2 separate regions of the Homo sapiens genome follow, and region 1 is linked to region 2. The links come from fine-mapping of genetic effects on gene expression. A gene starts in region 2. The other region holds a variant in brackets. All regions are shown on one strand. Distances are between the middles of the regions.

Region 1 (12,022 bases), 37 kb before region 2:
CTGGCGCAGATGGAGGGTGAGTTCCCCAGCTGGAGGTCACTCAGGGCAAGATTCTCATGAAACCCAAGCAGATTTACGGTTCCCAGCCAACAGGCAGTCCTCACACTGGGCTCGCTAGAACTGCACAAGGAGTTTACCAGATTTACCAAGACCCCCGAGATCTCAACCACAGCTGGCTCCCCTGGAGTCACACAGCTGTCCGGAGCCAGTGAGCAGTACCATCCTCATAGTCCAGGTGAGGACGGCTGGGTGTAGGTTGTGGTCCTGTTTTTCAGGTCAAGGGGTGCAAGTGGTGGGGTCTACAGGTCTTGGTCCTGTTGCTGAGGTCAAGGGGTACAAGTGATGGGGTCTACAGGACTTGGCTGGCCCAGCAGAGTGGTGTTTCAAAGAAATGAAGTGAAATCTTACCCAGAACCCCTGTGTGTGAAGCAGATGAGAAGCGGGCTGGTCTGTTTGGAGCACAGGTAGCCCCTCAATGTCCCTTCAGACTCCAGGATCAAGGAACCACCTCGGATCAGCTGCAGCCTGGCTAGGAAGGGTGAGGGGCCAGGGAGGACACCTGCCCTGCTTCCTGCGTGTCGTGCCTCGGACAGCACCAGGTTCCGGAGGCTTCCCACTCCTTGGGAGGGCTGAATGAGTCCTGGGGGAGTGTGTGCTGCAGCCACTCGGGGGCAGTGCTGAAGAGTGGGCTCCTCAGATGCCTGGGGCACTAAGGCCCACTGGAGCCACCAGCTAGGTCGGCTGCAGTGATTGCCCCATGCTCTGTACACTGCCACATACCAGGCACCGTTCTAAGTGCTTCATCGGACTCAACTCACCCACTTGCCCCAGCAGGTAACCAGGCAGATGTCACTGATCGGTTTTACAGATGAGGAAACTGATGTGCAGAGTGACACTCCTGAGACCGTGAAGCTTGTAAATGGGGCAGCTGGGTTTTGACCCTCAGTCTGGCTTTAGAGCACAGGCCCTGACCATGACACGGCCCTGCCCCTCTGTCAAGGGGAGGCCTGACCATTGGGACCAGCTGTGCACCCAGGTGGCACCTTCCCTGGGTAGCTTGGAGGATCACAGCCCCTCTGTTCAGGTGGTGGGACTGGGCTAGCCCATGCTGGTCTCCTGCTCCCAACACTAAACCTGGCTGTCTTCCAGAAAGAGGACAGAGCTCAGACACTGAGAGCTTGGGCAGGCAAATGGGAAATGACGGGAGGCTGCACGGTGCACCTCTGTGCCGGGGGTCTGACAGCCAGGCTGTGGGGAGGGGACCTTTCCATCCTGCTCTTGAGGTGCACACAGCACCAGAGGGTGAGCCCAGGGGCCGAGTCACCACAGCACCCATGTGCAGGGAGAGTCTCGATGGTGAGGGCCGCTGACCAGGACGGTCCTCCTCAAAAGAGTTTTACAAAATAACCCTTTGCATAAAATAAGCATTGTATTTTTCTCTGTTGAGGTGTAATTGACATAAATTGCACCCATTTAAAACGTATAATTTGGTACCTTTTGACATGTTTGTACCTGTGAACCTCTGACCACAGTTGAGGTGGTTACCCCCAAAAGGTTCCCCGTGCCCTTCCCTGCCCCGGGCAACCATTCTTCTATATTGTCACTGTAGATTAGTTTACATCTTGTGGAATTTAATCTAAACAGAAACATACAGTATGTACTCCTTTTTGTCTGACTTCTTTCACTCAGCATAATCATTCTGATATTTATCCATGTCTAAAATCCTTTGATATTCATCCATGATACACATCCACGTTGCATGTGTCAAAAGTCAATTCCACTGTATTGATATCACATAGCCTGTTTATCCATTCACATGTGGACAGACTTCTGGGTCATTTCCAGTTTTTGCTTATACGAATAAAGCTGCTATAAACCTTTGTATACAAATCTTTGTCTGGACAAATGCTTCCACTTATCTTGGGTAAATACCTAGGAGGGGAATGACTGTCATATGGTAGGTTCATATTTAACTCTTTAAGAAACTACCAAACTATTTTCCAAAGTGGTTGCATCATGTTATATTCCCACCAACAGCGTATGAGAGTTCCAGTTCCTCCACATCCTTCCTAACACTTGATATTTTCTGTTTTAAATTACAGCCATCCTAGTGGGTGTGAAATATTATCTCACTGAGGTTCTATTTTGCATTTCCATAATGACTAAAGATGTGGAGCATCTATTCAGGTGCCTGTTTGCTGACAAAATGTCTTCTTTGGTGAACCATCTGTTCAATTATTTTGCCCAATTTGTGAATAGGTTTTTTTCTTATTATTGAGTTTTGAGAGTTATTATTTGTATATTTAGGATATAAGTCTTTTACCAGATATATGATTTGCAAATAGTTTCTCCTGATTTGTTGTTTGTGTATTCTCTTGAAAGTGTCCTTCAGAGGCCAGGCACGGTGGCTCACGCTTGTAATCCCAGCACTCTGGGAGGTTGAGGTGGGTGGATCACTTGGGGTCAAGAGTTCAAGACCAGCCTGGCCAACATGGTGAAACCCCATCTCTACTAAAAATACAAAAAAATTAGCTTGGTGGTGGGCACCTGTAATCCCAGCTACTCAGGAGGCTGAGGCAGGAGAATCGCTTGAACCCAGGAGGCAGGGAGGTTGCAGGGGCCAGCTGTGGCCACAGGCTGGGGACAGAGGCCAGGTCTGAGGCTGGTCCTCAGTGAGGAGTAAAGGGGATGGACCGGGAGACAGGGTGCAGGTTTGACACTGATTTTGCTTTTGGGGATGGGTCGAGGGAAGAGGCTGAGACTCTGGGCTTGGACATTGGGTACGGAGGATGTGACACTAGCAGACAGGCTGGATCTGGAGGCCTAAGGTGTGCAGTGTGGGGAGCTGTGTGTGCAGGAGAGATGCAGAGCACTAGGGAGCCTGAACCCCTGCTCCAGTGCACAGGCCTGGCACACGGCAGGGAGGAGGCAGTCACCATTCCCTGACCCGCCCGGGCCTGGGAGGCAGGGCAGAGCTGGTGACGGGCCAGCGTGGGGCCTTGGAATGACATCTGGCATGTGGCGGTGGAGGGGGGACATGTAACTGGGGACTGTGGACTCCCAGCTGGAATCCACCTCCACCTTCCACATCCACGCACTGCCTTTTGGTCTTTACTGAGCACCTGCTGTGTGCAGGGGCTGCTCTAGCCCCTGGGACCACCAAGGGCCAGCCCTCCGCAACCCCAGCCCTGCATTCAGCCCCCACCCACTTCCTCCAGAGCCCCACACCCCACATACTGAGGACTCTAGGCGTTTTCCCACTCTTGAAGGCACTGAGCTGGGAACACCACCTCTGGCCACCAGCTGTGGACTGCAGAGAGGCCTACGGTGACCAGGAAGGGTGGAGCTGCCCAAGGTCATACAGCAAGCCGGCACTGCACAAGCTGATCCCATGGCTGCCCAGCCTTGGGGAATGGGGGACTTCTGGCATGTCCCCGAGCTGGCCTCATCTGGGCCCTGGTAGAAGGCAAATAAAGGCAACATCTCAACAAGGTTGTGATAGCTGGGACAAATTGAGGACACAGTGCCGGGGATCCAGGCAAGCAAGGGACAATCCAGGAAGGCTCCCAGGAGGAGGTGAGGGGCCTGAAGCCCACCCTGGCCTGAGCCCCTCCTCGGTACTCTAGCCTGCCTAGCCCTACCCGCTTCCTCGACGGGCCCCTCACCCAGCCTCAGCCTTGGCCTGACATTTCCCGTGACATTTGCTACAAAGAAATTGAGTCATAAATCCAAAGGTTAAATTTGCACATCGCCTCAAACTGCTGGGGGAAGCAGTGGTCCCTCCACCCACTGGGCGCCCCGTGGGTGCGGGGTTTGTGTGGCAGGGTCTACCCATCCTGGGGCACTTGCTGGAGGCCCACAGGTCTCCTCTGGTCCTCCGAGGCACTTCAACCACTGTTTCCCAAAACAGGTTCCTGGGCACACCAGGCCCTGAGGTACATCGCATAGGGGTGCCTCTCAGAGAAGGTGCTGCCCACCCCTCTCCAAAACAGAGCCCAAGATGCCCTGCGGGAAAGGAGCACCATCAGCACCATTTATTCCAGCAGGTCCCACATTTGACCACAAAGCCCTTATGTGATACCCCCAACATTCCAAAGAATTTCAACTCCATGGACCGTGACCCGTGACAGCCAGCTAAGAATGCCAGGGTGCCGACTGGAGAGCCAAGAGGCACCCGGGGGCCCAGGGCAGGCTGCTCTGAGTGAGGCTGGGTCAGCACCTGACACTTCACTCCCAGATCAGCCCGGCTCCATGTGCCAGGGCCCTGAATGGGGCTTACCGCCTGCCAGGCCTGTGTAGAACTACATGGGGACCCTGGCCTGTGCCCACTCAGCCTCTCCTAAGGCCACTCTCGAGGTGTGCCAACAGCCCTGCCTTTCTTCTCCACCTCCTGGTCTGGCTGCCGTGGGTTGCCTCCATTGGACAGGACACAGCTGCAGAACAGTGTCAGCATTACCCCATGCCCCGCTGCCCTGCTGCCCCGCAGAAGAGGCCCCGCAGGCCATAGCGGGCAAGACCAGAGGCTGTGTGAAAGAGGGAGAGGAGAGGCGGCCCCAAGGCACCCACTGCACAAATGGATGCCCAGACTCTACTCACTCACCATCACCCACCCGGCCAGCCCACGGTTGTCAAAGGCCTCAGCTGGCTAGGAGGGGCGGGATCTGGCCCTGCTGCCGAGTCCCCTGAAATCAGCTCAAGCATCAGGGGAGAGGCACGTGACCAGCCCCTAGACCTGGTGGGTGCCAGCTGAGGACATGGTGGGGTGGGTGTGCAGAGCTGCATCTCCCGGTGCCCAGCTCCACGGCTGCAGGCAGTGCAGGAGGCCGGTGCAGGTTTGGATAAATAAATGATGGTGCATTCTCAGGAAGGGATTCCACACACACCAGAAAACCCACGATGCACAAGAATAGTTCCCGATGTGCAAAGTGTTTAAAATACAGCGATAAAAGAAGAAACGGCAGCACAGAACAACTGGTGTGGGGAACCCAGCTGGGCCCCAGGGACAGTGCAGGGAGATTTGCAGGGTGGGGTAGCATGCCCGCCACTCCGATCGGGCTTCCCCGGGGCCACTCTGTTACCTCCTATCCTTTAAAGCATTTAATCCTAGAGATGCACGATGCCAAGGATTGCACCCCTTGATTTGCCTGGCTCAGAAGAGAATCTGACAGGCTAGGAACGAACAAGCAAATGAATGAACAAATGAGAAAGTGAACGGACAGTTGGGGCAAATGCAGCATCTGGGATCTGGCTTCGAGGAGGGTGCCTGTGACCTTGGCCTGGGTGCAGCCAGGCTGCAGAGCAGGGACACTGAGGGGTGCAGAGAGGGCCCCGAGAGGGCATCTGCACAGCTGCAGAGGCAGCAGGCAGCCAGGCCGGCTCCTGCAGACCCCAAAGCCCAGGCCCTGGGTGGCTGCAGAGGGTCAGGCAGGCCAGCCTGGGGATCAGAGGTCAGGCTTGCCAGAATGGGGGCGGGACGGCATGAACCTCATTGATCAGACAGTAGCCAAGCGTCGGGAGCCCTCACTAACCCTGTGCCAGGGCCGGGCAGGGCGCCTGGCTCACACATGCATTTGTTCATTTCCAGGTCATCCTGAAACTCCCCGTATGCTTCCTGTTCTTGACCCCTTTCCCAGGTGCACAGACCAAGGCTCCCGGTGAGAGGTTCCGGGCCACAGGCCCAGGACAGCAGGAGGGCTCCTCTGCCTCCCACCCGTCCTGTCCTCACCAGCTGGACCCTCCTGGTGTTGCACCGGCTGCACAGGGCCGTCCGTGCCACAAAGCATGAATTCAAGGCTGGGGCAGGGACGAGGAGAGGGCAGTGCTACAAGGCTGCACTGTCCTTGGGCAGAGGGAGGCGGAGGGCACGGTCCCACATGCCCTGGCCCTCACAGCCTGCCTGTCACTCACAGCAACAGCAAACAAACCCCAGCCCCTCCACAGGCTGTGGGCCAGTCCCCAGCCTCCCAGGACAACAGGACCTTCCCCCACCTTCCAGGGCCCCAGCCCCTGTGGGGGTGTCCTCCATAGACCCTCCACAAGCCCTCTGGCTTTCAGAGACCTGCTGGGCCAGGCCCTCCCTCAACCTCTCCCCTGCTTCTCACTCCATGCAAACCTACGTTTCTGCCAGTCCCAGTGGAAGGACCCTGGCACAGGGAAACTGAGGCTCAGGGGTTCCACAGACCCCCAGGTGAGGAACAGGGGGAGGGCAGGGAGGGAGTGAAGGTACTATGGGAGGGTCTCCCAAGCTGGGCAGCATCCCTGCCCTGTCCCCTCTCCACTCACCTGTGGCCTGAGTTGCCTGACTAGGGGCTTTTATTGTCCCTTCTGCAAATGGATGGGGTGAGGGGCCAGCTGGCCATGCAAAGGTCCCAGGAGGACTCTGCTGAGTTGGGGTGTGGGGAGGTGTTCTGGGCATTCTGAGGCAGAAGCACCAGAGTCGGAACTCCACAGGGAAAGC[C/T]GGGCCAATTCCGCCCAGCCTCAGCCTGGAAGTGCCCCGATAATCCCTGACCACTGGCCCATGGTGCAGGTGAGGAAGACTGAGGCAGAGAGGTGACCTGTCACACCCAAGGTCACACTGCCAGCAGGTGGCTGAGCCAGGACCCAAATCCAGGTCACGGTTCTGCCACGGCAGGCCCTGCACGTGCCCCTCTGCCAGGTGGGGTCTAGGTGCTGATGGCCACCCATTCCCACCCCCGGCATGGGAGCTCACTTCCTCCTCACCTCAGTAGAGAAGAACAGGGAACAGTACCCCCTTTATAGATGGGAAGACTGAGGCTTAGAAAAAGAGACTGGCCAGCCCCACTGCTTCAGCTGCCCCTCTGCTAGTATGTTTCACCCTCACACAACCTACAAGGATAACCTGCTGGTCCCCACTCTATAGATGAGCCTCTGGTGGTGGCCAGGGGAGCAGGAGGTGTGGCCTGCCAATTGAAGCCCCAGCCCAGGGCCCTTGCCACAGTGCTAGTGGGCCACCCTTGCCCATCATGCAGCATGGCATCCATCTGCTCAGCACCCTACACAACACCGGAGGTAGGGGAGCCCACCACGGAACCCCTCACCAAGAAGGTCCTCACCATGGAGAAACTGAGGTACTGGAGGCGGGGCCTCTGCAGTCACGCTGGGTCACGTGCTCCAGTCAGCCAAGCTGCAGCGGCCACCAAGGGTGCCCAGGGTCTGGCCTGTTGGTCACAGTGTTGACCTCATGGCCTGAAATGGGTCTTCCCTGACCAGACAGGTTCCAGCCCACCATCATCTATCACTGCCTCAGCCCTGGTGGGTGCGGAGTGGCTGGGAGACCCTGCCCCTCACACCCTGGGCTGGGGGCATTCAATGAGCCCCCAACACACATTCCAGGGCCTCTGCTCCAGATTAGGCCACAGCCTGTCTAGGCACACAAGGGGCACCCACACCCTGGAGGCAAAGAGACATATGCCTATGTGCTCGCAGGCACACATGATCACGCGCACAGACACACGTGCAGATGCATACCAAGTTACACACACGCACACACGCCCGAGGCGGGGACCCCCAGGACACGGAGGCAGGCAGGCAGAGGTGGGGCCCAGGATGTCTTGCCCCTGTCTGTGGGCCTGGCCTCCCCACTCAACAGACGAGCATGTGGGTGCGGGAGTGGGTATTGTGAAAGGGGCCCCAGCATGTGCCACCCGTGGAGACCACAGCAGGCATGTCGCGTACATGCATGTGTGGCCGTGGGCGTGCAAGCGGGGGCGAGGACACAGATATGCACCCTCAGAGTCCGTGTGTGCACCCAGTGTTCGTGCATGTGTACACTGGGGTGGCGCTGGCACGCATGTGCACCAGAGGTGTGCAAGTGTGCAGTCCGTGTAGACATGTGCACGTGCAAGGAAACGTGTGTGCAGCCTGCGACACCATGGACATCAGCAGGGCAGCCTGGGTGGGCACCTGGGGAGCACCCTCCAGGCAGGGCATGCCCAACTCACATGGAGCCCACCCTCCCTTGCCCCCCACTGCGGGACCTCACACCCAGTGGGGCGGGGGAGTCTCACGAAGGCTGCCAGGGAGGGGATGCTGATTGCCCCACCACCCCTGATTCCCCCAGCCAAGCCTCTCAATGTCCCTCGGGCTGCGGATGTCTGGGCATTGCTGCCTCCTCTCACCGCCCGCCCTGGAGGCAGCGTTGGGACAACCTTGTCCCCCACGCCCTCTACTGCCGCCAACGCCCCCATTGATCCCCCTGAGGCCTGACCTCAGAAAAACGGGAGGTTCTGAGCCCAGTCCGCGAGGCGGGGGCGGAGGCGGCCCGATACCTCCACCTACTCTCGGTACCCGCGTTTCTGCAAAAAAACCCGCTCATTAACCCCTTCGTGGCCGCGGCGCCGAGGCCGGACCCCGTCCTTCCAGCCCGCGGCCCCCACCCCGGACCTGGCCCAGCCTCGGGGACCCCCGGGCCGCCACCCCCGGCCCCGCCATCGCCGTCAACTTACCCGGGAAGCGGCAACTTTTCCTGCTGCCTCCGGCTCCGCCCTCCCGGGGCCGGGGCGCCCTTGGCCCCAGCCTGGCGCGGCACTGCGGTGGCCCTCCCGGCCGCCCGGCTACGCTTCCCCAGCCTTGGAAGCCCTGGACGGGCCCTGCGGCTCCGAGGAGGGGCGAACCACCCCGCTCTGCGCCCCGCCGCCTGCTGGGCTCTGGCGCCGCGTGGACACTCACCTCCAGTGGACGCCCTCTTCATCATAGGGGTCAGGCGGAGCGGGTCGGGGACCGAAAGTCGCTTCGGGGCGGGCGCCAGTCTCCGGCCCAGCCCCGGGCCGGCATCCAGGCGCCGCCGCTCCGGCCCAGCCCCGGCCCGGCAGCGGGTCTAGGCTCCGCGCGCTCCGCTCCGCCCGGCTCGGGCGGGGCTCGGGCCGCGGGCGCGCAGGGCGCGGGAGGCGGCGGCGGGCGGGGCCCTCACCTGGGCGCAGGCGCCTGCCTGGGCGGGGGCTGGGGGGCGCGGGCCTGGGCGGGGGCTGGGGGGCGCGGGCCCAAGTTGGGGCGTGAGCGGCGCGGCTGGCCGGGGAGCGTAGGCCGGGCAGCAGGAGGTGCTCAGCCCACCCGGCCCTAGACAAAGCCGCGCATTCCTGAAGAGGCGGCGGCCCTGCAGGCGGCGGAGGGGATGGCGGCTGGGGCCATTGAGGCCTGGGGATGGCCTCTGCGCGACCCACTCGCTTCCTGGCCTCACGAAACCCATGAACCCCCCGCCCCCCCCCGCCCCCTGCACAGAAGCCCCTTGCTGGAGCACGATCGCCCCCATTTTTCAGTAAGAAACAGGCTCAAGGCTTAAGAGCGTTCTGGGGGCCCTCTTGGGCCTTTGTGGCCCTCTCTGCACCACCCCAGGGAGGGGACCCAGGCCTGATGTTACCCATAACCCTGCAGGGGTCCCCCACCTCTTCCTTCCTGCGGAATGTGGCCTCCAAACCCAGAAGACGCTCTCCGAGGCCGCCTGCTTAGTATCATCCCCCACTCTACTAAGCCAGCCCCCAGCGGGGCCGGGGGGGCGTCATGGAGCCAGAGAACCCAGTGACACCCCTACACACACCACACAGGGTGGGGGTGTTCCTTCTCCGTCTTCTGCTCGGGGGGCATCCGATGATGATGAGCTCCTAAGCCCATCCCGGGGTCTTCAGACAACTGCCAGGCTGTCCCTGCACCTGGAGGAGTGCTGGGAGTCAGCTCAGCTGGGCTGGGTCCTCCCCAGGCCCACCCTGCATGACAGGACCAGGGTCTTGCAGGCCAACCTGGTGTCAGTCTGTAGGACCCTGACTCAAGGACGGAGTGGGCCAGCCTGAGGTCTTGATGGCTCCCCTCAGAGCCCAGGTCCACTGATATGAAGCAGAGAGACCTGGTGACTGGGCAGCCCTGTGCTCTCTGCCTGCCCCTGGCCATGGAGGTGGCCCTGAGGGAGATGAGCAGGGCACAGGGCTGGTGACCTGCCTGCCTTGTCCAGAGGAAGTGAGGACCTCCCAGAGCCCTGGTGCTCCCATCTGATCCCAGTGGCAGGCAGCTTCCCAGGGTGGAGCCATGCTGGCCGGGCCCTCTGCCTGGTGTGGAGGCTGCACTGCCCACATGCCTCTGGCTGCCGCTCTGTGGCCCTCATCACCTTGGCCTGCTTTATCCCTATCACCCTTGTCCCAGCCTAGGCTTATGAGGGCATTGTGGAGTGCATGCCATTCCCAGCCACACAGAAGGTGAGGTGGGGCCCAGACACCCCCAGCCACTCTGTCCCCTGGCCTCCTGAAGGGGTGGGCTGTGCACACACTGCCACCTCCCCAGAGGGTGCTGGCTGCCGAGTGCCACCAGCTCAGCCCCTGAGGTGGCTCAACAGGTCCTCCCAGAGCCACACCAAGATGTCATCACCCATTGCACAGATGGGGAACCTCAGGCGAAGCTGACAGAGCCAGTGGGAGGCTGAGGCCTGACCCCTAAACAAGCATTCTTCCTCCAGGGTCCCTGCACGCAGCAGCCCCTAGACTAGGAACTGAGCTCTCACCACAGGGATGTATCAGACCCTAGATGAGTCATGAGGCACTGACCATCAGTCTGAGGACAGCGCTGGGGTGGACCAGGCTCCAGTCTCGGGCTGCTCTGTGCTTGCAGAGAGGGCTTGAGAGGACACTTGCGTGCTTACTATGCAGGCGTCTCTTCAATTACCAGTGACCCAGAGCGGCCCACTACAATTGAAGATTGTGACCCCACACCCTATCTCATAGGTTTAAAGCCCCTCCCACCCCTCCTGCAGCAGCCAAAGTGACCATTCTGGGGCATGGGATGGGCATGGGGGGAAATGGGGAGCCAGGGCTAACCTGGAGGCTTCTGGCACCACAGCCCTCTCCAGCCATCAAGTCCGGCTGTTCCCAGCTGCTCTGGGCTGGGACCTGGGCCTCCACCTCCCCACCTGTCTGTGCAGTGGGAGCAGGCCCAAGGCCCACAGAGGGAGCGCTGGGGGACCGGCTGGTTTCCTGTGTCCGCCACCTCGGTCAGCACCTTGGCCAGCGCCCTCCCCACTGGAAGCTGAGCCCACTCCTGGGTGCTAGCTGGAACGATTAGGTGTGGGCCAGCGCTGATAGGGAGTTATGGGGGTGCAGAGGCAGAGTTGAGCAGGGCTAGGCAGCCGGTCGGTCTGCTACCAGCAAGGCACAGCCCGCTTCTCAGGCTGTGCATGTGGGAGGGTTTGGTAAGCCACATTTTTCAGGGTGTAGCCAGGTCGGGGGGCAGCATGGGGAGTGGTGTACTCTCTGGGCAGGCGACCGCGGAGCCATCACCCCCCCAGGGCCCAACGGGCAAGGGAGGGAGGGCAGCTGACGGCTGGTGAGGGGCTAGCAGGGAGGGCTTGACAAGGGCTGGAGCCCCTGGTCAAGGGGCACAGCCAGTTCTATCGGGTCACCTCATGGGAGGAGCCAGGGACCCTGTGGGCAGAGCCTGGCCGTCTGCTGCCCGGAGTCTACACCAGTCAGTTCCTAGGAAGCCCCAGCAGGGGTGCTGGGAGGACAGGCCATCTGTGCCCAGCTGATGCAAGCTCCCAGGCTTTCTGGACACGTGGCCCTGGGGATCAGGAGTGAGCTGGAGACTGCAGACAGCTGTGACCTCAGGGCTGGGCAGACCTGTCACACCCTGCCTGGACTGGGTCAGCAGGGCCACACGGGCATCTGCCCGAATCGTTCCCCACCTCACACCCACCATGTAGGGCACATCCTTTGCCAGCTTCCCCAGCCCACCACCCCCCTCCAGTGAGGCCAGGGGCTGCCTCACCTCCCACCCCCACCCCCAACCTGGGGCTCGGCCTCCACGACCAGCATGCCGGTCATGAGGGCCCTGCCCAGCTGTGTGACCTCGGCCCAGCCCCTTGGCCTCGCTGAGCTTGCACAGCATGTGGACGAGGCAGACGCTAATGCCTCAGGGCCTGGTCAGCTGGTCACTGTCCCTCCTTTGTTCACCCCTCCTGTCCCCTGAGAGGATCATGCAGGGTTTTCACTCAAAACTCCATGCCTGCCCATAGAAGCCAGCTTGA
Region 2 (9,935 bases):
ATGAGTCTATGTCCATAAGCAATGGAATCTAATAATGTCCTCATATAAGGGGAGTTGGGTCCATACTGTTTTACTCCCTCTTTCATATCTTTTAGCATTTTTATCGAAAAAGACTTGTATCTGGCCTCAACTGTGGGAGGCTCTCCCTCTTGGGCTCCTTCTCCAGGTGGCATCGGTTCTAACGTTACTGGGAATTGCCATGCCTCAGTATCTCCTTCCTTTCTTGATTTATCAATAATTTCATGTAATTCACTACCCTGTCTACTAGGTGGTGCCGTAGGATTAAGTCTCCTAGTGGGCGGCTGAGGGTATGGCGCCCTGCCCTGTGGTGCTGGGGGCATTCCTGGATATCCATACTGACTTTCTGGGGGTGGCCGATACTGAAGTTCAGCCGGAGGCCAGTATTGATAGGCTACTGGCGGTTGGGTCTTATTTTCTTTAACCTGCTTTTGAGGTTGTAATGTTACGGGCACCTGACCTGCTGGAAGAGGACTTGTCCCTCGTGGTTTAGACTCTGATGGCCCCACTAATTCTGGACCTTTTCCTTCTAATTTTAACGTTTCAGGATATATCACCTCCTGTAATTGATTATAGTCAACATTTTGCGTTGACTGAGCCATTACCGGCTCTGCTACATATTCGCAATGTAAACTTTCCGTTTCTTTCTGGGATTTTTTCCTTGTCTTTTCATTACAATCTATTAAACAGCTTCCAGGGGCATCAGAAACTGAAACGCTATCTTCTTCTGTTTGAAATGGTTCTAAAGCTGCTTTAATAATGGCCCAATCATTCCATACTGTAAGTGGAATGATATTACCCTTCCTACCTGCTTGTTTTAGTTCCTTACCAATTCTTTTCCAATCTTTTAGATCTAAAGTTCCTTGTTCTGGAAACCATGGGCAAAATTGTTCTATTATTTGAAATAGCTTGATTAGATTTTTTGTAGATACTTTAACTCCCCCTCTTTTTAAAAGAATTTTAATAAAGCTGAGATAAGAGGCATATTTACTTTTAATTTTACTTTTAGTTTGCCCCATTATCACCCTAGCTTCTTCCGAGCGCACAAGCTTACCGTAAGGCTGACTGTAGACGTACTCGGGATCTCTCGTCGACTTGTCCTCAATGACCACGCTCGAGCGTACCTTCACCCTAGAGAAAAGCCTCCATGTTGGGCACCAGATGTAGGGGTGGGTTGCCCCTACACACCTGTGGGTGTTTCTCGTAAGGTGGGACGAGAGATTTGGAAAAGAAAAAGACACAGAGACAAAGTATAGAGAAAGAAATAAGGGGAACCGGGGAACCAGCGTTCAGCATATGGAGGATCCCGCCAGCCTCTGAGTTCCCTTAGTATTTATTCATCATTTGTGGGTGTTTCTCGAAGAGGGGGATGTGTCAGGGTCACAAGACAATTGTGGGGAGAGGGTCAGCAGACAAACACGTGAACAAAGGTCTTTGCATCATAGACAATGTAAAGGATTAAGTGCTGTGCTTTTAGATATGCATACACATAAACATCTCAATGCTTTACAAAGCAGTATTGCTGCCCGCAGGTCCCACCTCCAGCCCTAAGGCGGTTTTTCCCTATCTCAGTAGATGGAGCATACAATCGGGTTTTATACCGAGACATTCCATTGCCCAGGGACAGGCAGGAGACAGATGCCTTCCTCTTGTCTCAACTGCAAGAGGCATTCCTTCCTCTTTTACTAATTCTCCTCAGCACAGACCCTTTACGGGTGTCGGGCTGGGGGACGGTCAGGTCTTTCCCTTCCCACGAGGCCATATTTCAGACTATCACATGGGGAGAAACCTTGGACAATACCTGGCTTTCCTAGGCAGAGGTCCCTGCGGCCTTCCGCAGTTTTTGTGTCCCTGGGTACTTGAGATTAGGGAGTGGTGATGACTCTTAAGGAGCAGGCTGCCTTCAAGCATCTGCTTAACAAAGCACATCCTGCACCGCCCTTAATCCATTTAACTCTGAGTTGACACAGCACACGTTTCAGAGAGCACGGGGTTGGGGGTAAGGTTATAGATTAACAGAATCTCAAGGCAGAAGAATTTTTCTTAGCACATAACAAAATGGAGTCTCCTATGTCTACTTCTTTCTACACAGACACAGTAACAATCTGATCTCTCTTGCTTTTCCCCACACTGGGTAACACAGCCAGACCCTGTCTCCACAAAAAAATATTTTTTAAAAATTAGCTAGGTGCAGTCCAGCCTGTAGTCCCAGCTACTTGGGAGGTTGAGGCAGGGGGATCACTTGAGCCCAGGTGTCAGGCCTCTGAGCCCAAGCTAAGCCATCATATCCCTTGTGACCTGCACGGATACATCCAGATGGGCTGAAGCAACTGAAGATCCACAGAAGAAGTGAAAATAGCCTTAACTGATGACATTCCACCATTGTGATTTGTTTCTGCCCCACCCTAACTGATCAATGTACTTCATAATCTCCCCCACCCTTAAGAAGGTTCTTGGTAATTCTCCCCACCCTTGAGAAGGTACTTTGTGAGATCCACCCCTGCCCCCAGAACATTGCTCTTAACTCCACTGCCTATCCCAAAACCTGTAAGAACTAATGATAATCCCACCACCCTTTGCTGACTCCTTTTTTGGACTCAGCCTGCCTGCACCCAGGTGAAATAAACAGCCTTGTTGCTCATACAAAGCTGGTTGGTGGTCCCTTCACAGGGACACATGAGACACCAGGAGTTCAAGGCCACAGTGAGCTGTGATCACATGGCTGCACTCCAGCTTGGGCAACAGAGAGAGACCCTGTCTCTTAAAAAAAAAAAAAAAAAAAGCCATCAGCTGGCTCAGGGTAGCCACCTGCCAAGGGTCCCCAGCTGAGCCTAAGACCTGCTTCCTAGGATTTACAGAGCTCCTGTGAAACTCGGTTGTTTCATTGATTGTCACATGGAGCCAGTGACTTTCAGGCCAGCCTTGTTCCCACAGGTGCCCTCACAGGTGGGCTCTCCCGTGGGCCTGGGCACCCAGCGCTAGGCCTGCTCTGCTATGGTCTGGACGTGAGTGGTGATCTCTGTGATCCCTGCACCCCTCGCTTCTCCCCCTGCCCTCTCTGCAGCCCTGCCCCTGGCAGCCCCTGCCCACCTTTGCCTCTGTGCAGGGCCACAGGCTTCCTTGAAGCAAATGCTAGAACTTTGCTTTTTTAAAAAAATATAACAGCTTTATTGAGATATTGAATGGTTTTTTAGTCTATACACAAGGTTGAGCAAACATCACCACTCTCTAGCCCCAGAGTATTTCCGGACCCCAAAGAAACTCCGTGGGCCTTGGCAGCCCCTCCCACTCCTCCCGTCCTCCACCTCCAGGCACCACTGCCAGTGCCATACTCACCAGGCTCCACTATGGGCTTGTCTTCGTGTGACTTCTGTCTCTATCGATTTGTCTATTCTGAACTCTTCATATAAAACGAACCATACAACTTGTGGCCGTTTGTGTCCGGAATCTTTCTTTAAAAAAAAAAATTCACCGGGCGTGGTGGCTCACGCCTGTAATCCCAGCACTCTGGGAGGCGGAGGCGGGCGGATCACAAGGTCAGGAGATCAAGACCATCCTGGCTAACACGGTGAAACCCCGTCTCTACTAAAAACATAAAAAATTAGCCAGGCTTGGCAGGCGCCTGTAGTCCCAGCTACTCTGGAGGCTGAGGTGGGAGAATGGCGTGAACCCGGGAGGCAGAGGTTGCAGTGAGCTGAGATCATGCCACTGCACTCCAGCCTGGGAGACAGAGCAAGACTCCATCTCAAAAAAAAAAAATTCACTTTTATTTTTGAGACAGGGTCTCCCTCCATTGCCCAGGCTGGAGTTCAGTGGCACAATCAGCTCACTGCAGCTTCAACCTCCTGGGCTCAAGCAATCCCCTCACCTCAGCCTCCTGAGTAGCTGGGATTACAGACATGCAACACTATGCCTGGTTAATTTTCTATTTTTTGTAGAGACGAGGTCTTACTATGTTGCCCAGACTGCTCTGGCACTCCTGGGCTCAAAAGATCCTCCTGCCTCGGCCTCCCAAAGTGCTGAGATTACAGGCGTGAGCCACCACACCCGGCTATTTTTATTTTTTAGTTGACACATAATAATTGTACATATTTGTGGGGTACGTAGTGATGTTTCTGTACGTGTATAGTGATCAGATAAGGGTAATTAGCATACCTATCATCTCAAACATTTATTATTTCTTTGCATTACGAACACTCAATATTCTCCTTCAAGCTATCTGAAAATACATAATTTTTGTTTTGAGACAGGGTCTCACTCTGTTGCTGTCTTCACGGAGAGCAGGAGCAGAGGCTTTGAGAAGCCAGTGGGCCTTGGCCTCAGCCCTGCCGGCAGAGGGTCCCCACCATGCAGCTGAAGTGCCAGGGTGCTTGTGAAGTCTAAGCCCTTGTCTGGCATTTGTCAGGAATATAGGGTGAGGCCTCTGGGACCGAGCGGGGCGGGGCGGGGCGGGGCGGGGCGGGGCGGGACCAACAGCGCACACTTAAGCGGCCCGGGCGGGTACCGCCGTCCCGCCATGGCTCTGAGGCGCGCCCTGCCCGCGCTGCGCCCCTGCATTCCCCGCTTCGTCCCGCTGTCCACGGCGCCGGCCTCCCGCGAGCAGCCCGCAGCGGGCCCAGCGGCCGTGCCAGGAGGTGGGTCGGCCACGGCAGTGCGGCCGCCGGTGCCCGCCGTGGACTTCGGCAACGCGCAGGAGGCGTACCGCAGCCGGCGAACCTGGGAGCTGGCGCGGAGCCTGCTGGTGCTGCGCTTGTGCGCCTGGCCCGCGCTGCTGGCGCGCCACGAGCAGGTGCGCGGGGTGCAGGCGGGGGCGCGGGGGCTTCTGCCGGTCCCGGGAGCCTTTACGGAGCTTCCTGGCCTGAAACGGGTGCCTCCCAAGCATCTCCTGGAGCAAGGGAAGCCAGGAAGGGAGGCGTTTCCTGCAGTCCCTCTCGGACCTCGCAAATTTTCCTATTTGTCGATGTCTACCAACTAAAAACAATGGTCGTTTTCATATTTACGATATATACCACTTGTGGGAATACAGAGTTATCACTTGGAATTTAAAATGGAGTATTCTTCATGTTGAGACAAGAGAATCCTGGTGTAGGGCTCATAGCCTGGAACCCCGGAATTCAAACCCCGGGACCCAGCAGCTTCCCAGACACGGCCACTCTGAGAACACTGTTGGGGAAAAATGGGAAGCCCCTCAAACGCCCAGCTTTGAACTCACCCATGGTAGCTTTAAAAAGTGTCAGGGCTTTTGGTGGCGGTGGTGGGGGGCAACAAGCAGAACACTGTTTTAGCCGCATCAGCCTAGGGGTACTAGAGATGACGGTTATCTCCAGGTGACCCTGGGAAGAGTTTGCAAGGTTCCGCTTTTTGGCGCCAGGGTATCTGGTGGTGTTGATTTCTCAGGTGAGACTGTACAGAGGTCGGGGGCTGCACCCCTGGCCTCAACAGGAGGCGGGGGAAGGCGGGGGACGGTGTCAGATGAGAAGCACCGAGCCACAGTTGAGCTTAGGTGAGGCCTCGGCGGGTGCGAGGTGAGGGCAGGGATCCACGAACTCAGAGTCAGATGCTGTTGGCCCGAATCCCATGGGGAGCGCCAAGGTCAGCCTAGGACCCGTGGTGGCGGGAGTGCGGAGGATGGTGGAGGAAGAAGGAGCTGAACTGGACAGATGGAGGGCTCTGGGAGGGCATTGCTGTGTGTGCACACAAGGATGTCTTAAGGTCAAGTTTTGGTCATAGAGAGCCCCGGCCAAGGAGACAGGAGGGCGAGAAGGGACATCCCAGGTAGAGGAACTGGCAAGGTGAGGGACGGCGATGTGGAGGCTTTGGGGAGTGCCCACATCTAAGGGGCATCCCAAAAGAGGAGCCAGTGCTGGTGGTGCTGCAATAGGAGGAGGAGGCAGCAGGGCAGAAATGCCAGGGGAGGGAGTGGCCAGCCACAGGTCCCTGCCCAGGGCAAGGACGGGCATGCTAGGTGGCAGCTGGGGCCAGTCGTGCAGAAGCCATGCCCACCTTGTGGCCGGGATGGAGTGGGGACTAGGAAGGCACCAGGTCAGGTTTCTGTAGGCACAGCCCTAAGCATGGCTGGGATGGGGAGGGGGCTAGGAAGGCACCAGGTCAGGTTTCTGTAGGCACAGCCCTAAGGTTTCTTGTCTAGATTCAAGACAAGTTGTTGCACAGAGAAGCCAGCAGAGCTGGGTGTGGGGTTTGGTGCCCAGTCTGCTGCGGGGAATGCCAGGTGCTGTTCCGTGACTGTGGGAGGAAACTGTTGGCTCCGCTGTCCCTTGGGTGCCTTCTTGAGGCAAGTGCCAGGGCTCAGGGATGGTGCTGTGAGTACCTGGAAGAGGCAGGGCATCCAGAGGTGACCTCTCCCAGGCTCCCCTAGGGTCCCACCTGTGCCCTGGGAAGTCCCTCAGTGGGGTCTGTACTGTTGTCTTGCTAGTGGTCCCATGGGTGTCGGCAGCCTCAGCACTGGAAGAAGGCAGAGGCCAGGTCCTGGGCTTGTGAGCTGCTCACTAGAACCTGGTCCTGTGAGCGGGCCAGAGGGGAGTTCCTTCCCTCACCCTCTGGGCTGTGGGGAGATTCCTTCTGCTGAGCCAGCACAGGTCTGTGAGGCACCCGGGCAGTGAGGCCACATCTGCCACAGGCGTGTCAGGTTGTAGTAGCTGATCTTTGAGCTGCTGCCTTGGATGGGGACAGCAGTGGGGCCCGCCCTTGCCTGAAAGCCAGACTTATTGAGGAGGGTTTAGGAAAGTCCCAGGATTTCCATGACAACAGCACTGAGGTTGGGTGTGCGCCCTCACAGAAGGGACAGGACCCGTGGTGACAGTGGTTCCCTGAGTGGGGGGAGGGGAGAGAACCGGCTCTACCAGTGTTACTCTGCACACATTTGGTTGAGTCTTTCACAGGGGGTACAAGTGTATGTGTTACTGGTGCAGGTTTCTAAATCCTCGAAGGATCTCCTCACCTGAAGAAGATGTGGGGCTGCCCTGGTCTCAGGTAGTGCCATGCGGGGACATCAGTGACACCAGGATGGTGTTAAAGTGGTTGCTTTGCTGTGGAGTCAGCTTTAAAATTACAAGCCCTAGGCTCATGCCTAGGCATGGTGGCTCATGCCTGTAATTCTAGCACTTAAGGAGGTCAAGGCAGGAGGATCATTTAAGGCTAGGAGTTCAAGACCAGCCTGAGCAACATCGTGAAACCCTGTCTCTACAAAATATTTTTAAAAGTTAGCTGGGGCCAGGTGCGGTGGCTCATGCCTGTCATCCCAGCACTTTGGGTGGCCGAGGCGGGTGGATCACCTGAAGTCAGGAGTTTGAGACCAGCCTGGCCAACATGGAGAAACCCCATCTCTACTAAAAATATAAAAATTAGCTGGGCATGGTGGTGTGCGCCTGTAATCTCTGCTACTTGGGAGGCTGAGGCGGGAGAATCGCTTGAACCTGGGAGGTGGAGGTTGCAGTGAGCCGAGATTGTGCTACTGCACTCCAGCCTGGGCAACAAGAGCAAAACTCTGCCTCAAAAAAAAGAAAAAATAAAAGTTAGCTGAGTGTGGTGGTGCATGCCTGTAGTCCCAACTACTCTGGAGGCCGAGATAGGAGTGTCGCTTGAGCCCAGGAGTGAGACCCTGCCTCTAAAAATAAATAAATAAAAAACTTGCCAGCCCTGCCTGTGTGCTTCTGCAGCCCTGTGCAGGGAGCTTCCACCCTCAGCCCGGGCCCAGTCCCCCAGCCCCCCATCTTTGTGAATAAGCATCCCTGGAGTCAGTGCAGCCTGGGCTCCCGCCCCTTCATTTAGTGCTGGCCGTGCGGAGGCGAGCAGTTAGGTAGAGGGAGACTGCGTGGCCCCGTGCGGCAGTCGACAGTTGCCCACCCTCCCTCCTGTTGTTTTCTGATGGTTCTCTCAGAGCGGATGTGGATAAGCCCAGTGATGGTGTTCAGGTCCCCAGTTCTGCCCCGCCTGCCACTTGGGTGATCTTTGATATGTTTCAGACCCATCCTGTTCTCCCAACTATCCCTGGGTGCTGCCAGCAGGAATGAGGCCTGGCTCAGGCTCAGTGGGAGACGGAGAACATGTCAGCCTGTTCATTTTCCAGTTTCTAATCCTCTTGATAAAAGAACAAAATGCCTTAAAGTCAGATTCTGCTTGGAGGCTGCAGGAAGGCAGGGGTGAGTGCCTGGGAAACCCTGGTCCTTGGGGCTGCCCCATGGCGTGCCCAGGGGTGATGGTCAGGAGGCGTCTCCATGGGGCACCAATGTTCAGGGTAAGGCTGTGGGGCTATGTCTGCCTGTGGGCAGGCGTGTGGGTGCTCAGGGCTGGCTTGGGTGTAAGTGTTTGACTCGCTAATGGTTTTGCTTAGACTAGAAGTTGTTCCTGAAACTACGGTCTCAAGAGATGCTCCCCACATAAAAGGAGTTCTAGTATCCATTGGGTTTGAGAAACCCCAGGCTCTTCCTGTGTTGGGGCTGAGTCGGCAGGGGCAGCAGACACAACGCGGAGGTGTGCTTCTGAGCATCACACTCGGCCCTCCTCTCCAAGTAGCCTCTCGTTGTCCCTGTCCTTTCTGCCCTGGCTGTCCCCCGTGCTGGAGCTCCCACAGTTGTCCATGCCATCTCCTCGCCTTGGCAAGCCCCACTCCTGGATCTGGGTTAGTAAACACCCCTGCCCTACCCTGCAGGCACTGCCCCATCCCCCTGTCCTGAGTCATAGGCAGAGTCCCTCCTTCCCCTTTGGGGTTCCTTTACCACCAGGATGTGAGATCCTGGTCGGTTTCCTTTGGTTGTTTCCAGTCTATAAAAGGTGCTTGGTGCATGGCAGCTTGGGACATCTGAATGAGCGACGTGGTGAAATATGATTGGAGGAGACAGACAGTTCCCGGGCAGCATCTGTCAGAGTGGCTGGTCAGCCCCAGATGACCCTGCAGAGCGCATGGGTCCTGGGGTGGGAGTCATCTCACAGGCCCCTGTGGACTGTCATCTAGCTCATTGTCCTTGTTGCCAGGGCATGCCTCCCTCCAGCTGGGCGCAGACTCAGCCTGAGTTTCACACGTTTGTTATTTAGCATCCATTCGGGGGCTGGCCTCATGCCAGTCACACTGTTTAAGGGACTTGGGATAAGAGGGAACAAAACATTGAAAAATCTGGGCACTCAAGTACTAGAAAGTCAAGTTAGATCCTCCTCTTCCGCAGCAGAACTACCAAGGTGTGGATACAGAGGATGGTCTCAAAATGCCGGCTGTCATCCCCAGGGAGGCTGGCCATTCTCCTTTTTATCCACCAAGCAGTGGTCAGGCACCCACTGTGTGCTGCTGGAGTGACTCATGGGTGGGGCCCTGAAGGGGCAGAGTCCAGGTGGGAACAGTGTCCTCAGGCCAAGCAGGCAGCACCTCCTGTGGTCTCTCTGCCCTGGATGGGAACTGGAGTGATGGACAGGGTGGAGAAGCAAGCGGCTTTAGCTGGTCTTCACCATGAAACTGACCCTGAAAGCCCAGTCGCCAAGAGACCATATCGAGGCCCCATGGCTGGGGTGAAGTGTGGTCGGGGATGAGCAGCGGTGCCTTGCTGGGAAAGGAGAGTTCAGGCAGCCCAGGACAGCGGCTTCCCTTTGCCTTTCAGCTGCTGTATGTTTCCAGGAAACTTCTAGGACAGAGGCTATTCAACAAGCTCATGAAGATGACCTTCTATGGGCATTTTGTAGCCGGGGAGGACCAGGAGTCCATCCAGCCCCTGCTTCGGCACTACAGGGCCTTCGGTGTCAGCGCCATCCTGGACTATGGAGTGGAGGAGGACCTGAGCCCCGAGGAGGCAGAGCACAAGGAGATGGAGTAAGGCCTGCCCGGTGTCTGCGGGCTTTCTGATCATGACCCTGGAGCACCCAGTGGGAGCAGGTGGGATGTATCCAGCTGCTGGGCTTCAGCCTCAGCTGGG

Evidence for each region. PIP is the estimated chance that this variant, and not a neighbour inherited with it, causes the effect.
Region 1: its variant is fine-mapped to the expression of PRODH in sun-exposed skin (GTEx, PIP above 0.99). The same link has a PIP of 0.9 or more in tibial nerve and unexposed skin.

The regions. Positions count from the first base shown.
Region 1 is chr22:18,967,325-18,979,346 of GRCh38, reverse strand. It overlaps DGCR5 (DiGeorge syndrome critical region gene 5), which reads right to left and starts at 8,879. Exons shown (of 6, transcript NR_110533.2): 1 at 8,689-8,879. RefSeq lists an enhancer at 8,967-9,798. The variant C/T (reference allele first, on the strand shown) is at 6,458.
Region 2 is chr22:18,930,887-18,940,821 of GRCh38, reverse strand. PRODH (proline dehydrogenase 1) reads left to right here and starts at 4,529. Exons shown (of 14, transcript NM_016335.6): 1 at 4,529-4,807; 2 at 9,624-9,832. The coding sequence starts at 4,535. LOC122455341 (a long non-coding RNA gene) reads right to left here and starts at 4,399. Exons shown (of 4, transcript NR_173080.2): 1 at 4,174-4,399; 2 at 3,355-3,470; 3 at 1,073-1,149. RefSeq lists enhancers at 1,463-1,970, 1,832-2,126, 1,085-2,149, a silencer at 1,832-2,126, a promoter at 1,085-4,299 and a cis regulatory region at 4,313-4,547.